Regions from separate parts of the Homo sapiens genome. Here all the other regions are linked to region 3. The links come from fine-mapping of genetic effects on gene expression. A gene starts in region 3. Each other region holds a variant in brackets. All regions are shown on one strand. Distances are between the middles of the regions.

Region 1 (10,304 bases), 38 kb after region 3:
CTTCTACTGTCTAGAATATTACATTGTACAGAAGCCAACAAAAGTTATTGCATAGAATATTAACAACATTTTTATTACTATTATATAAGAATCAGATTTATTTTAAAAGTTAACATTAGGTATGCATTATAAAATTAGGCAACATTCTTCAGGACCCATTTTTTTCCTCTATTTTTTTCTTTTACAGATGAATTTTCTAAATTTCTACCCTTTATCCTTTTATCAAGACAACCTAGTCTAGATAAATCCTGGTGCTCCAGGGGCCCAGGCATGGGGGTGGAGTAAAACTCGCCCATTCACCTGTGCCGGCAGGTTCTCTGCACCAGAACCAATAAGTGGCCACTTGGTAATTACAAGTTTGCCAAGACAGTTTTGCTTTAGTCTCGGAGAAAGTTGTATATGTTTATCGTCCTTTTGCTCTTTTTTATTAATTTTTTGGTATTGTGACTCCTCCCCAAAACCGCATCCGGTAAATCGCTTCTGTATTTTGTTGACAGCGGACATCATTTCCACCGTTGAGTTTAATTACTCTGGAGATCTTCTTGCAACAGGAGACAAGGGCGGCAGAGTTGTTATTTTTCAGCGTGAACAAGAGGTCAGTAATTTTCAGTCCACAAATCAAATGCAATTATTCAACCTTTCGCATATAACTTAGAAGGGAGGAAGCAAAATTATTTTCTCATTGTCTCATTTCATTAAGATTCAGTTCCATCACATTAGCCATACAGAATCTCCTTTCAGAAATTATCTAAGTTCTGGCCTCAGCTGCTGAGCCCCGGTGAAGTCTCCAAGGCCTTTGTCTTCAGAGTAGGGAGGAGATTCCGCTGGGGACCCCATGAAGGATGCAGGGTGGTGGTGAGGTGCATTTATGTGCTTTCATTCCATAAGAACTCACGCGGCTCTCTCTGAAAATCCCTTTATACGCCTATGCAGGTACTGGCCCAGCCCCGCCGTCCTGCCCTGCCATGAAGTGTGAGCAGCTTTCTCAGCACTTCCTGCAGAGAAGTCTGGCAGGGGTGTGAATTCTCTCTTCCCTTCAGGGAGAGGTGAGCAGCACTCACTCCTCCATGCCCCCTTGAAGGCTTCACCTGTCTGGAGGGAAGGGAACCTTCAGAGTGTGGGCCTTGGAGGAGCCCACAGCTCATAAGCAAGCACTGGCTTCCCGGTCACGGCACTGCCTTTTCACTGATGCCTTGCCAGCCCCCTCCCTCTTCTTTCTGTTGAGCCTCCTCAGAGGTCCTAATGAGCAGTGATAAAGGAAGCAAGATCATGATTTGGTAGTCAAGGATTCCTGGCAAGAACCCTGGCTCTGTGCAGCTAAGCCTGGGGTCTGAAATATTTGTCCTGCCTTTTCCTTATAAATACAGTCCCTTGCCCTTCCTGTCTCTGAGTTTCCTAACAGATGAAAGGGACAGTTTATCATCTCCAAAGTCTGGTCTCTAAATTTGTGTGACGAACTTTGGTTTAGAGGTTGGTGGGCCCTGGTTCCCCTCTCTGCAGATCTGTACACAGGAAGTGCTGGCCCTGCCCCCCAGGAAGGGGAGCCTGGAGGAGGACTGTCCCTGGGCCACATGAGGAAAATTGACAGGTGCTAACCAATTTCATTATCAAAACATACCTGTTGCAGCTTTATTTTGATTATGTCCAGGTAGTTAAAGATTTTTTTAAATCCTGTTTTCTCTGATTTGGGATGGTAAGAAATCCTTTTGTGAATAATAAGTATATCGTTAATATTTCTTCACAGTTTGATACATTTATAATTTTGCATTTTTATCTCAGAAGTAGAATATCACACAATGCTACTTAAGAACCATATACCTTGGCCAGGCGCAGTGGCTCACGCCTGTAATCCCAGCAATTTGGGAGGCCGAGGTGGGCTGATCACCTGAGGTCGGAAGTTCAAGACTAGCCTGACCAACATGGAGAAACCCTGTCTCTACGAAAAATACAAAATTAGCCGGGTGTGGTGGCACATGCCTGTAATCCCAGCTACTTGGGAGGCTGAGGCAGGAGAATCGCTTGAACCCAGGAGGCAGAGGTTGCGGTGAGCCAAGATCGTGCCATTGCACTCCAGCCTGGGCAACAAGAGTGAGACTTCATCTCAAAAAAAAAAAGAACCATACACCTTACCTTTCTCAACAGAAGTAAAAGTGGGTTGTGGTGTTTAAATGTTACTTTTAAAGCAGGAGGAGTTTTTGTTTTTTTGAGATGGAGTCTTGCTCTGTCACCTGGGCTGGAGTGCAATGGCGTGATCTTGGCTCACTGCAACCTCTGTCTCCCGGGTTTAAGTGGTTCGCCCTGACTCAGCCTCCCAAGTCGCTGGGATTACAGGCATGCACCACCACGACCAGCTAATTTTTGTATTTTAGTAGCGATGGGGTTTCACCGTTGGCCAGGTTGGTCTTGAACTCCTGACCTCAGGTGATCCGCCCACCTCGGCCTCCCAAAGTGCTGGGATTACAGGCATGGGCCACCACGCCTGGCCAGCAGGAGGATTTTTTAACAAATTGTTGAGTCATGGCTATCTTAATGCAAGACTTCACTTTTAGCTTATTTAAAAAGTCTGTCATTGTAGCGATAGCCTTAGGGAAGATGCCTCATCCCTGCCTAACAGATTTTAGGTTAGAAAATGGAATTTCTCTTGTTTTTGTGAATCGTTGCTTAACCTAAATAATAATAGTCTCAAATATAAAACAAACCCTGATAAAAGTCAAGCATCTCGTTCTAAAAGATATTGGGTATTATAGAGTGTTAAGTGCTTTTTTAAGATGAAGTTGTTATGTGAGTGACAGATTTATACAGGAGCAAGTCCCTACTGAAGTTGTTCAGCCAGCTGCAACTTGACAAACCCCAGGCAGCCTTTTTTCTTTTTCTTCGTATTTCGGTTCACGTCTGAAAGGCTTTCACGGTCCATCCATTTTAGAGCATTCGGCTGGTTGCCCCATGTGCCCTTCCCTGTGGACTTGAGTGTGTCTGTGGGTAAGGGCGGCAGTGCACGTGTTCATCCATGGCCGGAGGCCGCGGATGGTGTTGCAGCCGCCAAGAGGGTGAAGCTGCTGCCCATCAAGCGACCCCAGCTCCCAGTTAGAAGCTGCAGCAAGGTTCACAGGCGTCCACGTGTGCGTCTTAGAATCGAAGGAGCGTGGAGGATTCGGAAGGCTAGTGAGTGAGCACCAGATTGTGGAAGGTGCAGGGCCTGAGATTCAGGAGTCAGGTCCATAGAGGCCCGTTGGGAAGCTCTGGCTGTGCAGAAGACGAGGTGGGAAGCATAGTCAGCACCTTGAGTTTCAAGCTTTTCTTACTTTTCTGTGCAGATTAAGTCTTACAGGAAAGCCCAGCCAATAAAACTAAGGCCCACAGAACGTATGGGTGTGGCTGTGCGGCCCACTGCCCTCCAGGCTCAGCTCTAGCCGCCAGGAATCAGGTGAAATCAGAAATCAGCACGTCCAAAAAGAGAAGGTGCTCGCTTCCTCCTCTTCCTGTGTGTTACTTCCCTGCTCTCCTGCCCGTGTCCCCATGAGGCTTCCTTTAGAATTCTCTCCTAGCAGAGCGGCACTCCATGAGATCTGGGAGTGTTGGAGAAGGCTGAGGGGTTGCTTGGGTTTGGGGTGACTGGGATGGGAGTTGGAACCCGTTCATGGCAGAGAGACAAGCCTGCAGCCTAGGGACCATTCTTGTTCTGGCTCTTAGGAGAAAGGCCAGGGCAGTGCAGGCAGCACTTTGACTTGGACATTTTATTTTTTTGCTTCTATTCCGCTGTTTTTTCTTGGTAGATGAATGTCTTGGGCATAGGACTAATTTAGTTATACAGATTTTTCTTTTTAAATAATTTGGTTCCACTTTTCTCCCTTGAAATAGAACTGTCTGTTGAGGGGCTGTGCTTTTTTGTAGAGTGGTAGGAGAGGGTCAAAGGAGAACAGTTTCAACATCTGCCCCGTGCAGCACACGCGGGGCAGTCAGCAGCAAGGCGCTCAGCTCCTGCCCGTGGAGGCTTCGGTTGAAGGAATGCAGGAATGCCCTGCCTGTCAGACTCAGTGCGGCGGACAGGGGCAGGCGAGGCACTCAGCTCCTGCCCGTGGAGGCTTCGGTGGAAGGAATGCCCTGCACGTCAGACTCAGTGCAGCGACGCGGGGCAGGCGAGGCGCTCAGCTTCTGCCCGTGGAGGCTTCGGTGGAAGGAATGCCCTGCACAT[T/C]GGACTCTGCAGCAGTGCGGGTGTGGGTAGCTTCTTGGGATGTCTTCTCCTGATACTTGATCAGATTGGAAATATCAAGGAACATCTGTTTAGACTTGAAAGTTCGTTTAGTTCCATTCCTTTAGCATATGTACTAAAGTGTTAAACACCTAAGATATTAGATATTGGTTATAGAGCAAGAATGAAAGTACTGGCGTCCTTGATTTTGAATTATGAAATATTTAATACTTAATAGAAAATTTCACTTAGGGCATACAGAAGATTCAGAGGTTAATATAGATGTACCTGCAAACCCACCACCCAGAGGTTATCCCTTCATCAAAGGAAGGAGAATGCTCGGGATACAGATGAAGCTCCTGTTGTCCCCTCCCCATTTCAGCCTGCTACTTTCCTCCTGGTCTTTTTCACTCTCCCTCTAGCTTCCCAGAGTTGCTCATGATTTTGAAGATGGCATATGTCTTCCCAAGCATGTTTCTCCACTTCTGTAACAGACTTGTTCTGTACGTACGTAAGCAGCACCTCACTCTGGGCACCTGTGCAGCCTGCTTCACTTGTGCAGCACTGTGCGGTTGTCTGTGCTGGCTCATTTATCTCAGCGGCTTCGTGGTGGTCCCTGCATGGCCCTGTGGCTTACTGTTGCCCTTCGCCTCTGGTTGGCATATGTGTGGCGTCTGGTTCACTACCACTGTGTTGGAGCTGCCACATCGCTGTGTCACGCTCCTCAGGCCCGTGCTGGCTCTCCTCTAGAGCAGACTCAGCAGACACTTTCTCTCCAGGGCCAGATTGCAAACATTTTTGCCTCTATAGCTCATGCGGCCTTTTCACAACCACTCACCTCTACCCAGATGGTGCAGAAGCAGCCAGAGACAGTATGTGCACACATGGGCCTGACTGTGTTCCACTAACACTTGCCTTAAATACGGCAGGCTGCATTCAGCAGACCTGCTCCAGAAAACACGGCAGGCTGCATTCGGCAGACCTGCTCCAGAAAACACGGCAGGCTGCATTCGGCAGACCTGCTCCAGAAAACACGGCAGGCTGCATTCGGCAGACCTGCTCCAGAAAACACGGCAGGCTGCATTCGGCAGACCTGCTCCAGAAAACACGGCAGGCTGCATTCGGCAGACCTGCTCCAGAAAACACGGCAGGCTGCATTCGGCAGACCTGCTCCAGAAAACACGGCAGGCTGCATTCGGCAGACCTGCTCCAGAAAACACGGCAGGCTGCATTCGGCAGACCTGCTCCAGAAAACACGGCAGGCTGCATTCGGCAGACCTGCTCCAGAAAACACGGCAGGCTGCATTCGGCAGACCTGCTCCAGAAAACACGGCAGGCTGCATTCGGCAGACCTGCTCCAGAAAACACGGCAGGCTGCATTCGGCAGACCTGCTCCAGAAAATACGGCAGGCTGTATTTGGCAGACCTGCTCCAGAGAACACGGCAGGCTGCGTTTGGCAGACCTGCTTCAGAAAATACGGCAGGCTGCATTCAGCAGACCTGCTCCAGAAAACACAGCAGGCTACATTCGACAGGCTGAATTCGGCAGACCTGCTCCAGAAAATACGGCAGGCTGCATTCGGCAGGCCTGCTTCAGAAAATACGGCAGGCTGCATTTGACAGACCTGCTCCAGAAAATACAGCAAGGCTGCATTCGGCAGACCTGCTCCAGATGCATACCTAGAAGTGGAGTCGAAGAGTCGGAAATCAAGTTCGTTCTTTTTTTTTTTTTTTTCCCTGAGTTTCATCTGAGATTTTTTTGAGCCAGGATTTTTTAGCTTTAAAAAATATGTATGGTCATTTGATATTCAAATTTATAGTACTGAAATTTTCTCTACACTGTGCTTTGTTCATTAAAACAGCTCTCATGTTTCCTTGCAGAATAAAAGCCGCCCTCATTCTAGGGGAGAATATAATGTTTACAGCACCTTTCAAAGTCATGAACCGGAGTTTGACTATTTGAAAAGTCTAGAAATTGAGGAAAAAATTAATAAAATTAGGTGGTTACCACAACAGAATGCTGCTCATTTTCTACTGTCTACAAATGGTAAGAATTGTGTTCTAAGTGGCTGTTTGATTTAGTTTTTTATTTTTAATTTTCTGTGTGTGTGTAGATTCCTTTTTATTTTAGAAGTTATTCCTGCTTTAAATTTTGGGGGGAGGGTAAGTTATCTAGGGTAGCAAGTGATAGGTTGAAAATTCAAAGTATGCAACAAAAACCACACGTGCACTTTATTATGCTGTTACTCTGCACGTCTGCACATCTTTCTTTATTGTACAAAACACCTCCAATTGGAAATATTCATGTTCAGAGACCCCATAGCTTATAACCCAATATAGGACCACACCGCTTTCTAATACCAGTACTCAAACAGTAGTGATGCATGTTATAGTTTTTCTTTTCATATGGAGAATGAGGTTTTTATTTTCAGATAAAACTATAAAATTATGGAAAATAAGTGAACGGGATAAAAGAGCAGAAGGTTATAACCTGAAAGACGAAGATGGAAGACTTCGAGACCCATTTAGGATCACGGCGCTACGGGTACACGTTGCCTTTGCTTTATCCAATGCTGTTGAGAAGTTAAGAATAAACGTTTCAGTCTGCTGTCTGGAGAGTGCTGCGCGGTGGAGTACTGTGAGGTCTGCTGTGAGGTCTGCCTCGTGATTCCTGAAAGTCGTTTGCACTCATGTGTGTGTTTAAAAGCAAGGTCTTTCTCCTGTTTTCACAAAGGCAGAAAGTCACATGTGGTCCTTAGGAAACACAGCAATACTAAGGGGAAAACTCATATTTAATTCTACAGCAGAAATCTTTGTGGACATAGCAACCACCCTTCTCTCAGAAGGTTCAGAACAGCACCTGGGAGGTTGGAGTTCAGATGAAATTCAGAACACCTCACAGGTGCAGTAGCACAGGTTGCAGGTCGAAAGATGAGCTGTGGGCCACAGGTACATTCAGGACGCTTCTCGGGGAATTTCTTTGGGGTTGGTTTAGGCAGATGCTGATGGTTCAGAACTCTCCACCTGTCCATCCATGAGCATCATTACTTTTTTAATTGTTAAATTATTTGCTCCATTGTTGGTAGTATGAAATGATCATATTTCATCAATTCTGATGCCTAAATTTTTTCATATTTTAACATTTATGAAACCGGCTAAAACTCAAAACCTCAATGTCTTATAATTGGCCTGGTGCTACGCACCACTGATGTTGTCTTAAATTAGATGGAACATGGTGAAGGGTGTCCGGCAAACTGGGCTCGAGCCCAGGTGTGTCTTGGTGAGAAACCAGCACCTGTGCAGAGGTGTGTCCCCTGGAAGGAAACTCTGCCTGGTCCCAAGGGGGTGCCGTTACTAGATTGGAAAACCGTTGGTTGTTTGGGTGGTTGGGTGGTTTGGTTGCGGGGGGTGGGTGGTTGAGTTGGGTGGTTTGGTTGGTTTTTAATGAGATTTCAGCCCCTTTTACACTATTGTTTATCAAGTGAAGACTGAGTGAGTGAGCCCATTCCACATTAGTCTTGGAGAGTGCTACAGAGGACGCTGTACCGCAGAAGCCTTTCCCTAACACATGTGCCTCTGGGAGTGATGTTGGGTCTGTTCTGATGCCATTTCTCCAGCTTTGCCGTGTGGGGTGGCTACACCTGGGGTTGTGCATTCCTCAGGAGGAGTGTCCTCAGACTTCTCACATCGATGTTGTCACCGTATTTCCTATGAGTTCATCAAAGCGAGAAAGGCTGTGGCATTTGCTGAAAATCTAGTTTATAGGGTCCTAATTTGAACCAAGATGTTTTGATCCAAAATGTTGGTGATGTCTGATACACAGTGCTGCCGCCTTTGCACCCCTGAATTAGTGTAAATCACTTTTAGTGACAGTAACACGAGTTGTGCAGTTCCATCATCATGAAACTGCTGATCCTAAAGTAGAAGTGTGATGGGACCCCCGAGGGTGGGCACTTGACCCCCTCCAGCCTTGTCCATCTCTTCTGCAGCCAACACCACCTCCCACCCAGTTACCTGTGCACACCCCACCCTCAGAAACCCCTGTTCCTCCTGATCAGACCCTGCCACAACCCATCAGCTCACGTGCTCATTTTGGGAGAACAGTAGGCCTTTACTAGGCCCAGTCTTGGTTTTATTCAAGGCTGCTTTTGTAGGTTTAGCCTAAATAAAACGGGTATAATTGGTGGCCCTACTGAAGGTGTGTGAGAAGTCTAGTTATTTCATTAGTTGGTGCATGGGGAAGAGACCACAGACAGGTAATTCTGTACATTGACTTAGGTCGGTATTTGAGATCTTACCTCTCTAACAGTTCAGAGTGGGCTATTTATGTATCTGAGCCTAACTGGGTAAGAGTCAGACATGTTGCTGTTTTTAAATTTTTGCTCTTAAATTATTTTAGTGCCAGAAAAGGGATATAATTAAAAGAAGAAATCTTGGCCAGGTATGGTGGCTCATACCTGTAATCCCAGCACTTTGGGAGACCGAGATGGGAGGATCACTTGAGCCCAGGAGTTCAAAGACCAGCCTGGGCAACATAGCCAGACCCCATCTCTAAAAATGAAAGCAAATTATTTTATATGCAAATTAAAATGTTTTCAATAAAAGAAGGAATCTTTGTAAGTATTGCAGCTATCATATGTTTTGATTAATGGGAAATTTGTTAGAGGATTGGGGTAGGTGTGTGTTTTTAAGCCTGAACTTGGTAGAACTGACTCTTCTTGCTCTAGAGAATCCAAGGGTGTGGTCAGCACTACCTGGGTTAAAATGAGGGAAGCCTCCCTACACACACTTTTCCAAGTTGGTTTTTTACAGAATTCAGCCAGACAAGACTCAGTTGAGAGCTTTTCTTTTTCCCCTAAGCTTTCAAGGCTCTCCCTTTTGGTTTCTAATTACAAGAATAACAAAAAATACTATCATTAATTTTTTGTTTTGATTTTAAAGCTTATGTTTTTCTTCCAGCTGGATGTTAGTGAGACACAGGCCTTTTTCCTTTTTTCATGTGTGATGCTATTCCTCACGCCTGAGCTCTCACCTCTGACCATAGGCGGCCTGCAGCCAGCGCCCACTCCTCTCTGTCCTTTCTATTTCTGTGCGAATTGGGCTTCCCTAGGAAGCCTCCCTGACCACAGCACTCAACACAGAGATGGGGGCGGGAGGTACCTTCTACTTTTTGTTTTAACCTCAAGTGAAGTGTAATATATAATACATACCTCCAGATAAGACATCTGCCCTATAAGTGACCAGCTCCATGAATGTTTGTAGGGTGCACATGCCCATGTAGCCAGCCCCAGACCAAGAAATGGAATATCCTCAGCTCCCCAGCACCCTGCTGTGCACCCTGCCAGTACCTGGAGCCAGTGGAGGTTTGTGGGGTTTGCACCGAGAAGCATAGTCCTAGTGCAGTGAGAAGAGGTGTGTGCATCTAGCTGCAAGGAGAGGACAAAGGGAGGGGTGCAGCTGAGCCACCCAGGAGGACTTTGCTGTCCAGCGCCTCAGTGTGGCCACTGGAGGACACACAGGAGAGGGAGCCGCAGGCCTCGGTGCCTGGGCAGTTTGTTACCCTGCCAGCTGATCTTCTCTTCAGCAGGAACATGTCGACCTCGGTAATGGAAGCAAGGGGAAGACTTGGAATAGACAGTATTCCATTTTGTAGCATATTTTCATAACTCTGCTAATTGGTTATTTGGGGGTATTGCCTGTACAGAATTATTACTTAGCCATGAATATAAACTTGTCCTCTTTCGTTATCTACTATAAGTGTTCTAATTATGTGCTGCTGTGATCTTTGTTTTGAATTCCTATTTCCTTCCATTTTTAGGTCCCAATATTGAAGCCCATGGATCTTATGGTAGAAGCGAGTCCACGGCGAATTTTTGCAAATGCTCACACATATCATATAAATTCCATTTCAGTAAATAGTGATCATGAAACATATCTTTCTGCAGATGACCTGAGAATTAATTTATGGCACTTAGAAATCACAGATAGAAGCTTTAGTATCCTTCCTCAGAGGGACACTGGCGTCTTCCCGAGGGTGCTCTTTAGATAGTAATTTCTCTCGTCCCTTTATACACCTGTATCTCGGAGTCTAGTCTTGTAAATACCATCACTGCAC
Region 2 (10,304 bases), 160 kb before region 3:
GCCCCACAGGATGGACACCGTCCTTCAAGGCTGGGAGGAGGGTCTGAGTGTGAGGGCTGTGGCTTCATTACCCATCATGCACAGCAGCATGTTCATGCAGTCAATCAGCAAACATCTGTGCACCTGCGAAGTGCTGAGAACGCAGCACTGAGCAAGACACTGCCCCTCCATGGAGGAACTCACAGGTGTGGGAGTGGGCAGGCAGGAGGCCGGGCGCACATGCAGTGTGTGAGCCTGAGGCACCCTAGGGCTGAGGAAGGGACCTGGGCTGCTCTGGGAGCCCCAGAACGCAGCTGGAAGGAGGAGGCGACCTTGAGCGAGCCTTGAGGGAAATGCACAAGTTAATCTGGCTGGAGGTACCTCCCCCACCATCATAGCCCACCCTCAACACGCAAGCTCACTGCGAGTGCCACACCCGGATGGGGAACGATCCAGCTCTCACCTCACTTTCTGGTGCACAGTGTCCCTCTGCAGCCATGACCCCCACCCCATGCTGCCACGTGAGCCTGGCCATGCTCGTTTACTTTTATTTCCTTTTAAAACTCTCTACTGGAATAGAATGTGCATTTATCATAAGTGAGCAGATCATTGGATTTTCACAAACCAAATCATCCATGTAACCAGCACCTACACCAAGAGATGGAACCTAACCAGGCACCCCCACAAAACCCACGCCCCTGCCCACTCCCAACACCCCACGCTCCTGCCCCACCCCTGCAAACCTAGGCTCATATCCCACCCTGCCCACCCCATGCTCCCTCCCCACCCACCCCACGCTCGCTCCCCACCCCTGCAAACCCAGGCTCACGCCCCACCCCTGCAAACCCAGGCTCACGCCCCACCCCACCCACCCCGCGCTCCTGCCCCACCCCGCGCTCCTGCCCCACCCCCACCCCACCAGGTAACCACCTTCTTGATTTCTCGCATCAGCGTCTGGCCTGTTTTTTTAATTTTTTTTTCTTTTAACAGCTTTATTGAGACATAATTCACATACCATAAAATTCACTTTTTAAAAGTGTACAGTTCAGTGGTTTTGAGTGTAATCATGGAGTTGCAAAATCATCACGACTGTCTAATTTTAGAACATCTTCATCACCCCCAAAGATACCCGATACCCTCCTCAGTCACTCCCCGTTCCCTTCCTCAGCCCCCACGCAGCAACAGTCACTCCCCGTTCCCTTCCTCAGCCCCCACGAGGCGACAGTCACTCCCCGTTCCCTTCTTCAGCCCCCACGCAGCAACAGTCACTTCCCATTTCCTTCATCAGCCCCCAGGCTGCAACTGCTAATCTGCTTTCTGTCTCTAGGGATTGGCCTGTTCTGGACATTTCATATCCACAGTGCCACCCATGTCTCACTCCAGACCTTGGGGGTCTCCCCCAATACTCGGTCTCCCCCATCGAGTATGACATATGCTATGGGATCTTCATATATGCTGTCCATCACACATCTGTACCACCGAGTATGAAACATGCTCTGGGATCTTCATATATGCTGTCCATCACGCATCTGTGCCATCGAGTGTGACGCATGTGGCTGGATCGTCATACATCCTCTCTATCATGTATCTGCACCATTATGATGTGTGCTGTGAGATCTTCATACGTGCTCTCTGTCATGCATCTGTACCTTCGAGTGTGACACATGCTCTGAGATCTTCATACATGCTATCACACATCTGTACCATTATGACGCATGCTGTGGGGTCTCCATACATGCTCTCAATCATGCATCAGTACCCTGCTGTGGGATCTTCATACATGCTCTCTATCACACATCTGTACCATTATGACGCATGCTGTGGGGTCTTCATACATGCTATCACGCATCTGTACCATTGAGTGTGACACATGCGGCCAGATCTTCATACGTGCTGTCAATCACGCATCTGTACCATCGAGTAAGACACGTGCTGCAGGATCTTCATACATGCTCTCTTTCACGCATCTGTACCATGCTGTGGGATCTTCATACATGCTCTCAATCATGCATCGGTACCATCGAGTATGATGCGTGCTGCAGGATCTTCATACATGCTCCCTATCACACATCTGTACCATTATGACGCATGCTGTGGGGTCTTCATACATGCTCTCAATCATGCATTGGTACCATCGAGTATGACGCGTGCTGCAGGATCTTCATACATGCTCCCTATCACACTTCTGTACCATTATGGCGCGAGCTGCAGGATCTTCATACATGCTCTCTATCATGCATCTGTACCATGCTGTGGGATCTTCATACATGCTCTCTATCATGCATCTCTACCCTTGAGTATGACACATGCTGCAGGATCTTCATACATGCTCTGTATCACACTTCTGTACCATTGAGTATGACATGTGCTGCGGGATCTTTGTACATGCTCTCTATCCCGCATCTGTATCGTTGAGTTTTAAAAATTAATCTCTCTCTTTACTTGTTATAAACCTATGCCAATTTTCTATTTCTTCTTGGATCAGTTTTCATAGTTTATGTCTTTCTAGAAATTTTCCCATGTCATCCAGTTATGAAATGTAGTGACATGCAGTTGTTCGTAATATACCCTGATAATCCTTTTTATTATTTAATTTAATTTTATTTTATTTTGAGACAGAGTCTCACTCTATTTCCCAGGCTGGAGCACAGTGGGACAATCTCAGCTCACTGCAACCTCTGCCTCCTGGTTCAAGTGATTCTCCTGCTTCAGCCTCCCAAGTAGCTGGGATTACAGGTGTATGGCACCATGTCTGTTTAATTTTTGTATTTTTGTAAAGACAGGGTTTCACCTTGTTGGCCAAGCTGGTCTCGAACTCCTGACTTCAGGTGATCCACCTGCCTCGGCCACCCGAAGTGCTGGGATTACTGGATAATTCTTTTTATATCTATAAGGTTGGTTTTTTTTTTTTTCTTTTTTTTTTTTTTTTTTTTTTTTTTTGAGACGGAGTCTTGCTCTGTCGCCCAGGCTGGAAGTGCTGGAGTGCATTGGTACAATCTCGGCTCACCGCAAGCTCCACCTCCTGGGTTCACGCCATTCTCCTGCCTCAGCCTCCTGAGTAGCTGGGACTACAGGCGCCTGCCACTACGCCCGGCTAATTTTTTGTATTTTTTAGTAGAGACAGGGTTTCACTGTGTTAGCCAGGATGGTATGAGGTTGGTTTTCATGTCACCTCTTTCATCTGATTTTATTAATCTGAGCCTTCTCCTTCTTTAGGTTTTGCCCATGTAGCTAAAGGCTTGTCATTGTCGTAGATCTTTTCGAATAACCAATTTTGGTTTTGTTGATTTCCTCTACTGTTTTTATACTCTATATTTTATTTCTTTTCACGCTAATCATTATTATTTCCTCCAACTGGTCTGCTTTGGATTTATTTTGCTTTCCTTTTTTTAGTTTCTTGAGGTAAAGATTAGGTTATTGATTCGAGATCTTTTTTCTTTTTTAGTATGTGTTTGCAACTACAAACTTCCCTCAAAGCTCTGTTTTAGCTGCATCCAGTAAGTTTTTGTATGTTTTGTTTTCATTTTCATTCATCTCAAAGCATTTTCTGATTCCTTTGTGACTCATTTGACACCCGGTTATTGAGGAATACGCTGTTTAATTTGTGTATATTTTTGAATTTCCTAAATTTCCTTCTTTTGCTGATTTCTAATTCTATCCCATGGTGGTCAGAAGATACTTTGCATGAAAGCAGTCTTTTAAAATATACTGAGGACTGGTGCAGTGGCTCACGCCTGTAATCCCAACACTTTGGGAGGCTGAGGCAGGCAGAAACCACCCTGGGCAACATGGTGAAACCTGTATCTACTACAATACAAAAAACATAAGCCAGGCATGGTGACATGCACCTGTAATCCTAGCTACTTGGGAGGCTGAGGCGGGAGAATTGCATGAGCTGGTGAGGCAGAGGTTGCAGTGAGATAAGACCGTGCCACTGCACTCCAGCTTGGGTGACATAGTGAGACTCCATCATAAATAAATAAATAAATATAAATAAAATATACTGAGTTTTGTTTTATGGCTTAAGATATGGTCTATCCTGAGAATAGTCCCTCAAGATCCTTAACTTACTTACATCTACAAAGACCTTTATTCCAAATAAGGTCACATTCCCAGGTACCAGGTGGGCATATCTGGGGTCAGGGGGTTTCGGGCAAGGAGGGCATGTGAGCTAAACGCACAAACACCCAGGAGTGTGTGGGTGTGGGGCTCTGGGAAGTGTGAGGCTCTACCCCTGTCCTCGCCAGGCTGCTTCTCATGTCTCTACCCCCAGTGCCTGGAAAAGTCTCAGGCGCCCATGAGGAAGCCTCTCTCCCAGATCCTGGGCCCCAGCACCTCCCACCTGCAGCATCGCACAGGCACAGGGATCCTCGGCACTGAGTGACCCTCGGCACTGAGTGACCCTCGGCACTGAGGATCGGAGGCCGAGGGACACTTCGCAGCTGTGAGACTGAGACCCCGACGAGCAGCTTAACCTCCAGGGCCTCAGGACGTCTCCTCCAAGCTGGGTTGATGATGGCTGTGCCCAGAGGAACACTGTGCTCCCCACACCTGGCTTTCCCTGCGAGGACACGGCATCTGGGCTGGGCACGCGTCTGGGGCCCCTCCAGGCCTGGCGAACACTGTGCTCCCCCCACCTGGCTTTCCCTGTGAGGACACGGCCTCTGGGCTGGGGGCACGTCTGGGGCCCCTGTGGGCCTGGCAGGTCCTTGTGGGAGGGTCTGGGGACCAGCACCCAGTGCACTTTGGGATAAAACTTCTTTGAAAATTTTCTCGCCCTTTTCTGGCATCATGGACCCTCCCCAAAGACTGAAAGCCACCACAGTGAAGGAGAATCACCAATGATCGGGGCTCATCCTGGAGCCCCTTCCTCCCGAAGTGGCAGAACCATGTCCAGGAAGGAGCCAAGGGGTGCTGGGCTCCCCCACCACGGCCCCACCCTTGCCCTCCCTTCCTCCACAGCCTCCCCTCCACAGACAGCCAGGGACATGGCCAAAATGGGGATCCCTCTCATCTGGCAGTTTCAATTCTGTTCCCATGGAAACTGCTATCTGAATGTGGGCAAGAAAGAGGAGCCATATTCTTTAAAATAACAATCACTCGGAAACTTTCATGGGCCTGTGTTTTCAGTTACCCGTGGTTTCCATGGAAACTCAAGCCAAAAACAGAGCTAAATAAAGAAGGCACTGGGTTTCCCCTGCTACCAGCCCCCCGGGGAACTGTGGAAAGCCACAGCCCTGCCCCACAGGGAGTTGCTCACCACTGCTGTACAAGGATGCAGGACCAGCCCTCCCAAATCAGCCACGGGGCTGCCTTCCTCCTAAGCGCATATGGGTGTGGGAGACGCAGAGAGGGAGGGAAGGAGAGGGGCCACAGCTGCTTCCTGTCCCTGCAATCAGCCTCTCCTACCCCAGACTCACATGGGGAAGGCACACTGGGCTGTGGGTGCCCCAGGCCGCCCATGCCGGCAGAGGTCACTCACTGGGGGGTTAAGGGCCCATCTCAGCATAGTCAAGGCTACCTCACCGCTCCCCTTTTCTGAAAGTCGCCATGGGGCAGGGAGGGATCTGCAGCAGGCGGGGAGGCCTCTGGTGGAGGGCATGTAAGCCAGGCCAGCATCTCCCAGACAGCCCTGCACAGTGAGCCGAGC[A/G]TGGGCTTGCTTTGACAGGCTCTTGCTGCTGCCCAGAGACCTTGTCCAAGAGCTCCTACACTGAGGGCTGCGGACCCCATGTCTGTTTTCCACCGAGGAAGTGCTTGGGAAATACCCAGGGAACGGACAGCACAGAAAATCCCCTGAAGATGCGACATGCAGGGGCCCCCGTTGCTTCTCCAGCTGCAGTTCCCGAGAAGAGGCTGGTTGTGCAGGAGCCAGGGCAGCTGGGGCCCCCTGGCCAACTCGCTGCCGTCCTGCGCAGAACACTGGCTCAGCAGCCAGACGCAGCCTACCCTGGCGGCCCTGCCCGGCCTGAAAGGAAAGTCATCTGCACATTCTCTCGCATCCTACCTGCTTTCTCTTTCTTCTTCCGTTTAAACAATGCTCAGGACACCGGCTAGACCGTGTTTTCTTTTGTTTTGTTTGTTTTTTCTTTTAATAATGTCTACATTCCTTAAAGCAGTGCTTTTATCTCAAAGCAACTGGACACGTGGTTACGTTACTCTCAATTTCCTGCCACCATCATCACATTTGAAAGATGCTGGAGTCATGAGCCTGTGAACTCTCGTGACACACCCACTCGGGTGCTGGAGTCATGAGCTGGTGAACCCCTGGGACACGTCCACATGGATGCTTCTCAGCTCTCACCCCTTCAGTGCCAGATCTGTGCTGGGCCCTCTTCTGCAGGGCCTCAGACTCTGCGTGGTCCAGAGAGGATGCCGTCATAGCCAAGCTCAGGCGGAGGCCTGGGGTCCGTCCCAGCTGCATCCCCCACTGGAAGGAGACAGGTGGGAAACAGGCTCGGCACCAGCCTGCCCGACTGCAGAGCAGGAATGCTTTTCCCTGCGGAGAACACTCCTCAGACCTCCACTCTTTCACTAAAATTTGAAGTAAACATCTGTATTTAACTCATCAAGCCTCGTCACAGACGCTTCACCTTCAGTCTCCCAGGAAGATACATTTTTGGGGTAATAGGATGGGAAGCACAGGAGGACAGGAGCATGGGAGGACGGGAGGATGGGAGCCTGGGGGGACAGGAGTACGGGGGCACGGGAGGACAGGAGCATGAGAGGACAGGAGTTTGGGAGGACAGGAGCCTGGGAAGATGGGAGCACAGGGGCCACGGGAGGACACTAAATGGGACAGGAGCACGAGAGGATGGGAGCACAGGAAGACGGGAGGATAGGAGCATGGGAGGACAGGAGGATAGGAGCACAGGGGGCATGGGAGGATGAGAGAATGGGAGGATGGGAGCACAGGGGGCATGGGAGGACACTAAATGGGAGGACAGGAGCATGAGAAGACAGGAGCACAGGAGGATGGGAGCACAGGAAGAAGGGAGGATAGGAGCACAGGGGGCATTGGAGGATGGGAGCATGGGAGGACAGGAGCATGGGGAATGGGAGCACAGGAGGAATGGTAGAACGGGAGGATGGGAACACAAGAGGACAGGAGCACTGCAGGACGGAAGCACAGGAGGATGGGCTCATGGGAGGACAGGAGCCCGGGAGATTGGGAGCACAGGGGCATGGGAGGACGGGAGCACAGGAGGCTGCCTGCAGTGATTTTGTTATTCCCTTAACTTAAAACCCAGGACGTGGGACCAGATGTTTGAGAGACACATTAAAACCAGTGAGAATTAAGCATAGGGAGCGTGATCAAAGCTCATGCCTCTCCCAATACCATTTTGGTTCCTAACAGTTAGAAACAAAAAGACGTCCCTATTCTGAGGCATGAAGTATGAATGTGAATTTAGATGAAACTTTTAAATTGATCTTAAAGGACAGACAAATGTCAATGAACAGCAGAGTTTACAAATTGCAAGACAGAGAAGAAGCTTCACCAGCCTGCGGGAAGATGCCTCGGCAGCGGCGGGAGTGCGTTTCCTGCACATATTCACCCATCACTCATCTTTCATCCGTGCTCCCTGAGCAGGTGCTAAGGCAGAGGGTGCTCGCTCAGGGCGAGAGGCAGGCAGAGGCTGCAGTGCCGGCGGGGCAGGGTGTGGCTCCTCTGCAGGGCCACGGTGGACAGAGGTGAGGTACCAGGAGGCTTGAAGGAGGGGTGTCTGACCCAGCCCGGGCACCACAGAGGACTGCCTGGAAGGAGCTACCACTGTGAGCCCTGACAGAAAAGAAGGCCTAGCCCAGAAAAGAGGCAGTGTCGTCGGCAGATCCCAGCCCAGTCAGGCCTGGCGTCAAGAGATGCCTTCAAGATGTAGGCAGCGTAAAGACCTATACACACACACACACACACACACGCAACACACAACACACAACACATACACAGACAACACAACACATACAGACACACACTTATAACATGCACAAACAGCACACACACAACTCCCACACACACATATGGATACATACAGAGGTGGCTCCAACAGGATGGGCTGGCCTGGATCACAGGTCTGTGTGCCCTGCGGCGGGGGGAGCCTTGGGCGGCGGACACAGGGTCTTATTCTCCAGCCACCCGGTGCAGTGGGGACTGTGTGCCCTGCGGCAGGGGGAGCGGCAGACACAGGGTCTCATTCTCCAGCCACCTGGTGCGGCGGGTTGGTCCCTGAAGGATGTGTGACCATGGGTTGGGCTTCCAGGGCTCTCTGCAGGCATCCAGAACAGATCCTCAGGAATGTTCAGCTTCGTATTCCGCCCCCCACCCCCCAAGCCAAAGAGGGGCTGCCGGCTTCACCCCACAGGCCCCCTCAGCCCTGACTTCCCACGGGGGCTGCAGCAGGGTTGCCCGGGACGTTGACTCGTGGGTGAAGAACCTGTCCCCGGAACCCCACTGGGACGCGGCCTTGGCAGAGGACCCTGGACCACTGCTGGGGACAGAGCTGGGGGGAGGGGACAGGGCCATGTGCCCACCGTGGGGGACAGAGCTGGGGGGAAGGGAAGGGGCCGTGTGCCCAAAGCTGTGGACAGGGCTTGGGGGGGATGGGACCATGTGCCCACCACTGGGGACAGAGCTTCTGGGAGGAGACAGGGCTGCTCCTCCTCCTGCTCCTCCTCCTCCTGCTCCTCCTTCTGCTCCTCCTTCTGCTCCTCCTCCTGCTCCTCCTCCTCCTGCTCCTCCTCCAGCTCCTCCTCCTCCTGCTCCTCCTTCTGCTCCTCCTTCTGCTCCTTCTTCTGCTCCTCCTCCTATACTTTCTCCTGCTCCTCCTCCTGCTCCTCCCCCTGCTCCCCCTCCTGCTTCTCCCATCCTCCTACATGCTGTGACCAAGCAGACCAGGTTTCACCTGGTCATCCCCAGCCACTGCTATTACTGAACTCACTGAGGGCCTGGAACTGCAATGAGTGGTCACGGCCCACAGAACAGAAAGGGCCCCTGATACCCACACACTTCCTAGGGATGGAGCAGGGAAAGATATCTTCTTTTACAGCCCTACAATATTAATGAGAGTTCTGAGGAACTTTCCCATTTCTCTTAAGGGACGGGCAACCGTCACCCATCAGCACTGCCTCCTCCACCGGGACAGGAGGAGCTGACTGCTGGGGGCTTTCAGAGCATCTGCCCCGACGGCCTCCGGGCCCAGCCACCACACCCACCGCCCTCAGCGGCATCCTCCAGTGTTCAACACTGTCCCCAGCTGAGGCTGAAGGTCCCATCAAAGAGAAATGGAATCCAAGGGCTGGAGAGGGAGGGAAGATGCCGCTGGGACAGCGTGTGAGTGGCCAGCCAGGGGACGCACCTCCTGATCCGGCCATACACAAGGCCACCATGGGGTGAAATGAAGGCTAACGTGGCAGTCAGAGCCACGAATGAGGAGTGGCTCAGCCACGTACAGACGGGGTGGTCAAGTTTGAATAACTTGCTAAGAAATGGTAAACCCAACTCAGGAAGTCTAAACCAGGAAGGCAGCTGACATCTAACAGGGCGCTCATGGCGGGCTCTGTGCCCTCATTTGCTCATCTGTGAAGTGGGGATGAGGATGACAAGCTTGTGGGCTTGGATGGTTGATTCACTTTCTCCAGCTCACACAGGGCACAGGTGCTGACTGGGGATTCAAGCCCCATGGTCAGGCCCCAGGGTGGGGACGCTGAACCAGGTGCCCTGTGGGTTCTCCGGACAAAGCCAGGGTCTGGGCTAGAGCAGATGTCCAGACGTGGAGTCCAATAAGACGGTCGGGCGGGGCTCTGATGGGGCCACATGGGCAAGCATCTGACCTTTCCTTCCCGGGCCTCCGTGCGCACAGGCCCCAGCCTCCCGCTTTAGCCCCTTCAACTGCCTGTCATTTCTGAAACACACTCCCCTTCCCCGGCTTCCAGCTCCACACTGCACCCCTCCCACCTTAGCTCAGAGAGAGGCTGCTCCCTCAGAGGCCTCCCTGTGAGCCTGCCTGGGGCACTGGCACTTCCCTGCTGGGCCAGAGACCACACAGGCCTTACCAGCTCCTTCCTCCCCACTGGAAGCTGATGTGGAGGACAGGGCTGCGGCCGCCTGGCCCACTGCTGACCCCAGCTCCGCAGGAGGCCTGGTGCAGACATGGCAGGTACTCAGGGAGTGCTGCAGCTGGCACTGGGTGAACCAGGGCAAAAACAGTGGGCACCATGGTGGGTAATACCTAGCAGAGGGCCCGGCACAGCAGCCACGGGGGCCAGTCAGTGGCACAGCCACCGCCATCACGAACCACAGGGCCAGTGGCACAGCCACCGCCATCACAAGACAT
Region 3 (10,304 bases):
GCCTCCCAAAGTGCTGGGATTACAGGCGTGAGCCACCACGCCCAGCCCCTGTGCCATTTTTAAAATCACTGTAGAGCAGTCTCACCTGTTCTAGAACTTCAGGATTCTTCAGAGAAACCGTGTATGGAATGAGCTTTATTTTCAGGAACTCACTCACACAATTGTGGAGGCTGACAAGTTCAAAAACAGAGGGTGCACAGGGTGAGCAGGGCAGGCCGGCAGGCTAGCTCAGGCAAGGGCTGATACAGCAGCCTGGAGGCAGAATTTGTTCTCCAAGAAACCTCAGTATTTGTTCTGAAGGCCTTTGATTGATTGGATGAGGCTCACTCATATTATCAAGGGTAATCTCCTTTTCTCAAAGTCAACTGCCTGTGGGTGTTAACCACATCCACGAAACACCCTCGTGGCAATACTTGGCTTAGTTCTGATGAAATAACTACATACTATACCCTCGCTACATTGACACATGAGACTAAGTATGATAAAATAAAGGGGCGCATGCAGCTTGCACGCCTCCGTGTCTGGCTCCTTTCATTTTCGTAATATTTCGGGGACTCATTTGGGACTGCTGTTTGTATCAGTAGTAGCTCATGCCTTTTAGTTACTGAACAGTACTGCCTTCTATGATTACAATAGGCTAGATTCTAATACACACCAGGCATTTTCAATTCAGCTGTGAGATCTGAAAAACAATTTTAAAAAATAAAATTGCTGTCAATACTCAGAAACTTGTAAACACCAATTAGAATCCAAACAGAGAAATTCATTGAGCTATTAGGTTGGCGCAAAAGTCATTGTGGTTTAGCCAAATATTTTAAGTTTTTAGCATCATAAGAAGAATAGTTAAAAATCTCTTTTTAAAAAATAGTTAAAAATCTCTTGCTGGTCAGCTGATGCACAGTGGGACGCAGGGAAGGCAGCCCCCCAGTCTCAGGAATATGTTACTTTTGTGGCTATATCTTGTTTTTAGTTTAATTTAATGGGAGCTAATGAACCAGAAAATACATTCTAAACAAAAACTAATTATCTTGTCATCACTTCAAAAGACATATTTAACACACATTAAAGCAGTTACATAGGAACTAAGAATAAAATCCTACATCCCCCACTGGCTGAACGAACACCCCTGTGGCCAGGGGGGGCCCCAGGAAAACCTCAACACTGAGGCTATAATGGGGGATGGGAGGTCAGACAGGCCTCCTGATACCCCCGCCCTTTTGTGGTTTGGACACAACAGACCAGCGTTAACGTTAAACTAGAGACCATAAGACTGACAGAACGGACTCTGTGGCAGTAAGATGCCAAATCATAAACAGGGCCTAAGGCCGTGCGGGGGGAGGGTGAAGCCACGCACCGCACACTTACAGAGAAAACGTCGTTCCCACTGCTGTTGGGTTTTCCTTCCCTCCAGCAGCTAAATAAGCACTGGCCTTGATAGGAGCAACATTAAGCAACTGCAGCTCCACCAGCCACTAAGTGACCCCCAGCCCTGCTCCAGCAGCCGTAACTACAGCTTTCATTGGACAGAAGACTGTAACTGTCTCCTGATAAGAAACCACCGACCTTGGACTGGTTCTGGCCGGTTTACAGAGGTTGCACATCTGCATGCCTTCCTGTCCTGAAAAGACCTCTTGAGGTACAGGGCCTAGTCCTAATTTACTTATTTATTTATTTATTTATTTATTTAGAGACGGAGTCTCGCTCTGTCGCCCAGGCTGGAGTGTAACGGCACGATCTCGGCTCACTGCAACCTCTGCTTCCCAGGTTGGAGGGATTCTCCTGTCTCAGCCTCCCAAGTAGCTAGGACTACAGACATACGGGCGCCACCACGCCCAGCTAATTTTTGTATTTTTAGTAGACAGGGGGTTTCGCCATGTTAGCCAGGCTGATCTCGAACTCCTGACCTCAGGTAACCTGCCAGACTTGGCCTCCCAAAGTGCTGGGATTACAGTCGTAATATATTCAAATGTTTAGTCTCCCCGACAGAGTGAGATTGGGTCCTATGTTACATAATACACGTGTCAGGAGCCCCTTCCTGAGTATTCATAGCTCCTCCCAAAGCCTGTTGTCTATGTATGTTTAGCCAACCCGTTCAGCATAGAGCTCCTGCCCCAACTCCTCCTCCTACGAAGAGCCATCTCCCATCTTGGCCTGGGGGATGGCCACCTTGCTGGCTGTAACCATTTATAAGAAATAAAGTTCCTCTTTTTCTAAATTTATAAATTGTCAGGTTTTTAAGTTAACAAATAAAAGAGATCTGGTCATTAATTCAGGTTTTCAAGTGTCTTCCTGGGCAGATAGGCTAAATCTACATTTTAAAAACAAGATTACAGCCCCATTTTTCTGCTCTTCTTCTCCTCAACAGAGAAGTAGGTATTCACTGCCTCTAGTTCCTCTCCTGCCACTGTCCCCAGAGCCCTCTGCAAACTTGTGATCTGAGTCCATTCCATAGCCACCGCTCCGTCCAAGTCAGTAATGGCCTCCCAGTCCCTACAACCAAATGGTCACTCCTGTATACTCATCACATAGCATCACAGAGCAGCCACTCCCTCCTGTCTTCAGTGGATCCTGGAGATGGGTTCTCCAGGAGCCCACCTCGCAGGCTGCTCACTCATCCTCCACGTCCTCACCCCTTCAGGGCTCTGTCCTTGGTCCTGTCCCCCATCTGTCCTCCCTCCTGAGGTGACCTCACCCAGTTTCCTGACTTGAAATGACCTCTAAATGCTCTCACCTTGATGCTCTGGCTCTGACTTCCCTGTGTGCTCCCAGCCTGTCTGTGCAACAGCACTATGTGTTGACAGCGAACCTCTGGTCGGGCTGCACCGCCCCCACCCAGCTGTGCCTTCTGCTGCAGAAACTCCATCCTTCCAGGTGCTCAGACCACCCGAGAGCAGGCATTCCTAAGTCCCTGCTTTCTCTCACACCGCATCTTTTCCATCAGCAAATCCCAGGGGCTCTGCTGTCGAAGCACTTTTCTCTGAAATCTGACTGGTTCTCACCACCCCACCCCATGTTCACCACTCTATCCTCATCCCCATGCCTGGTCAGCCCAGCTGGCCACCTGATTGGTCTCCCTGCTTCCCCTCTTTGGGTCCCCACAAGCTATTCTCAGCAGAGCATCCAAAAGCCCAAGTCCATCACGATCGTCTTCTGTTCATGAGCCCATCTCATTCAGAGTCCAAGTCCCCTAAATGGCCTGCCCACTGTCCATCCTCCTCCACTTACCTCCCTGCCTTGACTCCAACCCCTGGCCTCCCCTCCACTCACTCTGCACCCACGCAGCTTCTGGCTGCCTCCTGCCCATGCCAGGCATGGCCCTCCTTCCTGTCCTGGCACTTGGTGGTCTCCCCTTCCTGGCCAAGCTTTCCTAGACGTCTGCATGGTTTGCTCTTTATCCTTGAGTCTTCTCCAGTCACCCCGTGCAAGACTCCAACTCTCCCCATACACATTTCCTTCTTCCCTGATTTTTCTCTCCAGCTCCGACTTATTATGTATTTATTTCCTTATTGTCTGTCTCCCCCACTGAAAGGTAAGCTCTACCAGGGCTGAGATTTCTCTGCTCTGTTAACCTCTCACCCCCAGGGCTGTGGAGTGTGCCGCACGTGGCAGGAGCTGTCAATAAATAATATTAATGGAGTGGACGAATGTTCCTGATTTGCAGCGACTGTCTTTTAGTGGTGCAATACCATCAGTGCCCACCGCAGCTACCCTGAAAGAAGTTCTGATTCCGGACATCAATCCCATAGGGACAGTCCCCCTGATGATAGCTCGACTTCAGATTTTTCAACTTTACGACGGGTAGATTGGGTATTAGATGCATTTTTGACTTAGGAAGGGCTTATTTGCGGGGAGGGTAGCCCCACTGTAAGTCGAGGAGCACCCATGATCGCTCAGTATGCCAGAGAAAACCACCCGCAAATGAAACGATCGGCCCTGTTTCCCTAAGACTGCACTGGGAGCTCCAAGAACCCCTAAGGTAGCCATCTGGTGAGCAACGGTGCGCTCCGAAAGGGAGGTGGACAGGATTGGGAGACCGAGGCCGGCAGATGGCTCGAGCCCAGGAGTTCGAGACCAGCCTGAGCAACATAGACCCCCGTCTCTACAAAAAATTTAAAAATCAGCGAGCCTGGCGGCGCGTGCCTGTGCTCGCAGCTACTTCCGAGGCTGAAGCAGTAGGATGGATTGAGCCCAGGAGGTCGAGGCTTTTAGGGAGTCGAGATCGCGCCCCCGCACTCCAGCCCGGGGAACAGAGCGAGACTCCGCGTCGGGGGCAGTGGGCGGGAGGCAGCGCTCAGGTACGGCGCGCTCAGGTGAGGCCGGCCCACATGCCCGCCCACCGCCGCCAAGCGCGTCCTCCATTGGCGGTTCCACGGAGAACCCACGTTTCCATTGGCCGATGCGGGATGGGGGCGTGTCCGGCCAAGCGGCGCCCTGAAGGCGTGTCCGGCCGCAGCTTAGGCTCTCCGGGAGTCCCCGGAGAGTAGGGGCGGCCGGCGGCGCTAGTCTTCTGGGGAGCGCCGGGTGCACACCGGACCACTGCGGGAGGCCTAGGGCCGAGGGCCGAGGAGCTGGCCTGCGCCCGGCGACCCCGGCTTCCCTCCGCAGTCGCCCAGGCGTCCCTTCCCCCCTACAGCCGAGCGGCGCCGGGCGCAGGCGCATTGGGCGCCCCCGGCAGCCCCCGCGGCCCGCCCCGTCCGCTGCCCGTCCGAGGAGGCGGAGGGCGATGACGTCATCGAGCGGGGCGACGGGCATTGGGCGCCATTTTGAAAAGGGAAAAAAATCCCTCCCCGGCGGCGGCGGCGGCGGCGGCGGCGCCGGCGGTGGTGGCGGCCCCGGGGCTGAGCGCTCGGCTGCAGCGGCGCGGAGGCCGTCTCCCTGGTCTGCCGCGGTCCCCGCCCGTCCCGCCGCCGGCTGCCATGGCAGGTGAGGGGTCTGCGCGGGCCGGCGGGGACCACGGGGGCGGGCGGGGGCCGCGGCCGGCCTGACCGCCCCGTTGTGTTTGCAGGAGCCGGAGGCGGCGGCTGCCCCGCGGGCGGCAACGACTTCCAGTGGTGCTTCTCGCAGGTCAAGGGGGCCATCGACGAGGACGTGGCCGAAGGTGAGCCCCGCGCCGCGCCCCGCCCCGGGACCCTCGCGGACAGCTCCCAGCCCGGCCGCGCGCGGCCTCCGGGCCCCAAGCGTCCGTGGAAGGCAGGCAGGAGGATGGGGGCCGGGCGGGGCAGGGGCCAGGGGCCGAGCTGGGGGCCGTGATCGGGGGGCGGCCGTCCTCTGTCCGCTGTCCCGGCCCGCGGGGCACGGGCGGAGGCGTCGGGCCCGCGGCGGGACTTATGTAAGTCACCAAGGTCACGGGCGGCCGGGTCCTCCGAACCCAGCGCCTGGGGCTGCCTCCTGCCCGGGGCGGAACCGAAGCCCGGGGCTGCCTCCTGCCTGGGGCGGAACTGAGGAGACCGCGGCGGAGCCGGGGACGGGAACGGAGTCCATATCGTGCGCTCGGGCAGCGCGGCACAATGGCCCAGAGGCTGGGAACGCGCCTAGGGCTGGGTCGGGGCCTCGGCCCCCACCAGGCTCTGCGTTTCATCGGCGGTGCGCTCTTGAGCGAGCTGGTTGCCTCGGCTCCCTGATTCTTAAGGTCTGCTTTCTGCGGTTCTAAAATCCTTGAATTTTACTGTGAGGTACTGCTACTTTCTCTACTGATATATTTTAAGGTCTCTATTCCAGATTTTAGTCTTGAACTTCATGGTATTACTTGAAGTTCACTGGTCTTTTCCTTAAATCATACTCTCAAATTGGCCCAGGCACAAAGTTTTAGGGTGGTGGGAGGGAACTGGGAAGTGCCTCCCACCCCAGCTTCCCATGAAGCTTACCTGTCACCTTAAAGTTAAAAAGCTATGTAGCTTTCCTTTTTCACCGTTGAATGGAGAACTTGGTCGAGTCTTAGAAGTTTGATTAATATTTCAGATTCAGAGTCATAGTGACTTTTTTGTTGTTGTTCATACATCTTACTGAACATTGTAAACCTTTAACCTTTTCTTAAAAATGATTGGTGTTTGCACCAAATACACCTTCCCTGCCTCAAGTTACTAAAAGCCCCTTGTCAGACGTCCTGTTCACTTCCCTCCATCTCGGCCCCCCCAACCCCGTGAACTTTTACTCCCTCTTCCCTACCCTGTACCTCTCCCTGGCAGTGTCTGGTTTGGCACATGACCCCTGAGGACATCTGGAGATTCTGCGCCCCCTGGGACAAACAGGGCCTAGGTTATTAAGCAGGTGAAACTGGGCTCTAAGAAATGCGTAATATATATGGTTTGAGATTAAAACTAGGTGCATTTTATGTGATCTAAAAAGTTTATTGATTTTATTTCTTTAAAATGCATTACTTTTTTTGTTTGATTTTGCATATGCTAAGCAAGTGACAGTTCAGCCTTACTCAAGTGTGATTTCTGTCGCAAGTAAAGCAAAACTTGTTTGGGAGTAGGAAAGTGAGAGGGCTTAATGCTTGCCTTAATTTCTGTTAACTCTTTATTTTGTTTTTTGGAGACAGGGTCTCACTTTGTAGCCCAGGCTGGATGGAGTGCAGTGGTGCGATCTGGGCTCACTGCAACCTCTGCCTCCTAGGCTCAAGCGATTCGCCCACCTCAGTCTCTGAAGTAGCTAGGACCACACACACGCGTGCACCACCACACCAGGCTAATTTTTGTATTGTTGTAGGGGATTTCGCCATGTTGCCCAGGCTGGTCTTGAACTCCTGGGCTCAAGTGGTCTGCCCACGTCAGTCTCCCAAGGTGCTGAGATTATAGGCGTGAGCCACCGCACCTGCCTGGTTTCTTTACTTAAAAAAAAAAAAATTATTGATAAGCTGAATGAATTAAAATTTAAGTATAACTAAGGTAGTATATTTTAAATGTGACTGTACACATATGAAAATAGTATTCTTTCTTTAAAAAAAATCTTGGGCCGGGTGTTGTGGCTCATGCCTATAATTCCAGCACTTTGGGAGGCCAAGGTGGACAGATCACTTGAGGTCAGGAGTTTGAGACCAGCCTGGCCAACACAGTGAAACCCCGTCTCTGCTAAAAATACAGAAGTTAGCCGGGCGTGGTGGCACATGCATGTAATCCCAGCTACCTGGGAGGCTGAGGCAGGAGAATCACTTGAACCCGGGTGGTGGAGGTTGCAGTGAGTGGAGATCGTGCCATTGCCCTCCAGCCTGGACAATAGAACAAGGCTCCATCTCAAAAAAAAAAAAAAAAAAAAAAAATCTTGACAAATACTTTGTTCTCTGAATTAAACTGATGGGAACTTTTTGCAGTTTTAAATCCCTATTTTAAGTTAAATTTTGAGTAAATCCAAAAGTTTGGTATTTCGAGTTGTCGTGGTTTCTTTTGTAACATTGCTTTGTGGTAATTATCTGCATGTGTTTTGGTTATTCTGTGTATTCAGAGCTGTCTATTTTAATCCATGTATGCTTTGGCCATAGTAACCCATCCAGATTAACACATTTATAAGTCACCATCGATTTGTCCCATAGTTGTGATACCGTTGCTTTGTATTAACACCAGAGAGTCAGTGATGATGAAGGGAAGTGTAGTCGTTAGTCACCAGGGATTGCTGAGCAGCAAGGATCAAGAAGCTGGTCATGCCCAAACGCAACCTTGAGGGAGAGATGTTGGTGAGAGATAAGAGATGGGTGGCTGGGTACGGTGACTCACACCTGTAACCCCAGCACTCTGGGAGGCTGAGGCGGGTGGATCACTTGAGGTCAGGAGTTTGAGACTAGCCTGGCCAATATGGCGAAACCCCATCTCTACTAAAAATACAAAAATTAGCCAGGCGTGGCAGGGCCGGCCTGTAATTCCAGCTCCTCAGGAGACTGAGACAGGAGGATTGCTTAAACCTGGGAGGTGGAGGTTGCAGTGAGGCGAGATGGTGCCATTGCACTCCAGCCTGGGCGTCAGAGCGAGACTCCGTCTCAAAAAAAAAAAAAAAAGGAGAGAGATGGCCGGGCGCAGTGGCTCACGCTTGTAATCCCAGCACTTTGGGAGGCCGAGGCAGGCAGATCACAAGGTCAGGAGATCGAGACCATCCTGGCTAACACGGTGAAACCCCGTCTCTACTAAAAATACAAAAATTAGCCGGGTGTGATGGCGGGCGCCTGCAGTCCCAGCTACTTGGGAGGCTGAGGCAGGAGAATGGCATGAACCCGGGAGGCAGAGCTTGCAGTGAGCCGAGATCGTGCCACTGCACTCCAGCCTGGGCGACAGAGCAAGACTTTGTCTCAAAAAAAAAAAGAGAGATGGGCAGTTCACAGGGGTTTTTATCGTGCACTGCTGCTCAGGCTGTAGAACTTAAGGTATAGCAGATTTTGTTTGTTTAGATTTGTGGCTTGTGAGGCATTTTGTTCTTGAAGGTTTTGTTCTGGGCCAAGTTCAGCTCTGTAGAGCTTTACTACAGCCCTGCACTCTGGCCGTCTTTCTGCCCTCTCTGCAATGGGTAAGGAGAAGGAGCCTTAGAGATTAAGGCCTGGGTCCTCTCCTGACTTCAGTGGGGTGATGCCCAGTGCACAGGAAGTGGTGCAGGGCTAGGAGTAGGCACTCCTGACTTTGGAGGTCATGAAGTGAGTGACATAGAAAAGCCTTTGGTTTTTGTTTTGATTTCTGTTTTGTTTTTAAAACTAATAGTTTTGGGCTGGGGAATCAGAATCAACCTATGGTGAAAGTGCTGGCCTATGTAAAATTTGATGCGCACCCCACCCCCCTTTTTTTTTTAAAAGAATTGGGTTTAGCTATGGGTCAGGTCATTTTGCTAAGAGTTGTGATTCCACTGGGTCATCAGACTTCCCATCCCCCTGCAGGTAGGAGTAGAGCTGAGCTCACAAGGAAGTTATTAAGTGTCCTGCTGATGAGCAGGTGTATAAGCAGCAGTCAGTGGTGACTTGCATCTCCTCCCTTTGCTGGAAGGTGGGACTAGGTGAGTTTATATGCTGAGTTGACCAAGAGTTAAAATAGTAAAACCAGGGGGCTTCCAGCAGGAAGCAAGTAGAAAAGTTGTTTGTTAGCTTCTAATTCCACGATGTTGCGGTTCTAAACGGTGGCTCCTTTCTGGAAATTGTTAACTGTTGTGCAGATTTTTTCTGCATGTTATGGAATCACCTTCACCCAGCCCCTGCTCCCTCTCCTGGAACGTACTTCATTCAGCATGTGATGTGTTTTGCAATGTCACATGGTATTTCATCCTTTGCTTCTCTCTCTGGTAGACTGAGCTCCTCAAGCTTGAAGGCTGGCTGTCCCCCTTCCCACCCCAGCCCTTGTAGAGGACCCAGCACGAAGGTCATGATAGGTAACAGTTGCTGAGTGGTCATTCTGTGCTAGAGATTGCTCGCAGTGCTTTTCCTATGTCAGTGAATCTTCACACCACCGAAGAAGGAAGGAAATACTGTTCTTCCCAGTCTCAGATGCAGAATCCGAGGCGTGGGAGCAATTAACCTGGGTCACAAAGCGAGTGTATGGCAGGGCCAGGGTTTGGAGCCACGCCGACTGGCCGCAGAGCCGTGGAGCGCTGTACTGCTTCAGCGACCATTTGCAGCCAGCACAGTACTGATGAAGCCCCACTGTGGCATGCGGCCGTCCAGCCTTGGGATGGAGCTGTTCTTCTAAAGCTCGGTGAAAATCTTACTACCAAGAGGCGTGTGAAAATGCTTTTGAAGGCAAATGAAAATGGAATGCCTTTAAAGGAAGTCTGTGTCAAAATGATAGAAGATTAGTAACAAGGATTCAAGAATAGCATCACTTTCCAACCAATTCTCAAACTATTTGAAGAGTAGATACCACAGAGACAGTAAGTAAGTGAAACACCTGCACGTCAAGCAAGTGCTGCAGCACCTTTGCCTGTGATGTCACTTTCCACATGACTGCAACCTGCTTACCTGCAGGGAAGCTATGGGTCTTGCTCCTTTATATATTACACTAATTGCTCCTATGGAGAAACCGTGGGGAGGGGTTGGGGGAGGAGGGTCTTATATTGAACCTGGTTTTATATAGCTTTATAGCTTGATAACAGCTGGTTCCTTTCTTCTCAGAATTTGTAGTTTTAAGTGTATTGGGGTTTTATTTGTTGATTTTGCTTTAATCAGTTTCTTAATCCATGATCTGTTGCTTTGAATTAGACATTAACCTGTTTCTAAAGAGATAGACTAAACAAAACTAAAGGTTTGTTTGCTTAAGTCAAGCTTGAGTCTGGGGAGTTATGTAAGTAACATAGATATCTGGTTAATCTGGTAGGATAGCCTTTCCAAGGGAGTTTACATT

What was found.
Region 1: its variant is fine-mapped to the expression of PPP2R2D in tibial nerve (GTEx, PIP above 0.99). The same link has a PIP of 0.9 or more in Th1 cells, aorta, breast, esophagus muscle, gastroesophageal junction and ileum.
Region 2: its variant is fine-mapped to the expression of PPP2R2D in cerebellum (GTEx, PIP 0.95).

What each region holds. Positions count from the first base shown.
Region 1 is chr10:131,933,961-131,944,264 of GRCh38, forward strand. PPP2R2D (protein phosphatase 2 regulatory subunit Bdelta) reads left to right here. Exons shown (of 9, transcript NM_018461.5): 3 at 498-595; 4 at 6,071-6,236; 5 at 6,622-6,734; 6 at 10,008-10,185. Among named protein-coding and RNA genes, the nearest start is that of PPP2R2D, 38 kb to the left of the region's middle. RefSeq lists an enhancer at 401-1,600. The variant T/C (reference allele first, on the strand shown) is at 4,193.
Region 2 is chr10:131,738,206-131,748,509 of GRCh38, forward strand. No RefSeq gene overlaps it. Among named protein-coding and RNA genes, the nearest start is that of LINC01164, 47 kb to the right of the region's middle. RefSeq lists an enhancer at 4,995-5,094. The variant A/G (reference allele first, on the strand shown) is at 5,630.
Region 3 is chr10:131,896,233-131,906,536 of GRCh38, forward strand. PPP2R2D (protein phosphatase 2 regulatory subunit Bdelta) reads left to right here and starts at 4,776. Exons shown (of 9, transcript NM_018461.5): 1 at 4,776-4,923; 2 at 5,006-5,098. The coding sequence starts at 4,917. RefSeq lists an enhancer at 4,036-4,135 and silencers at 4,376-4,885, 4,956-5,355, 5,536-5,585.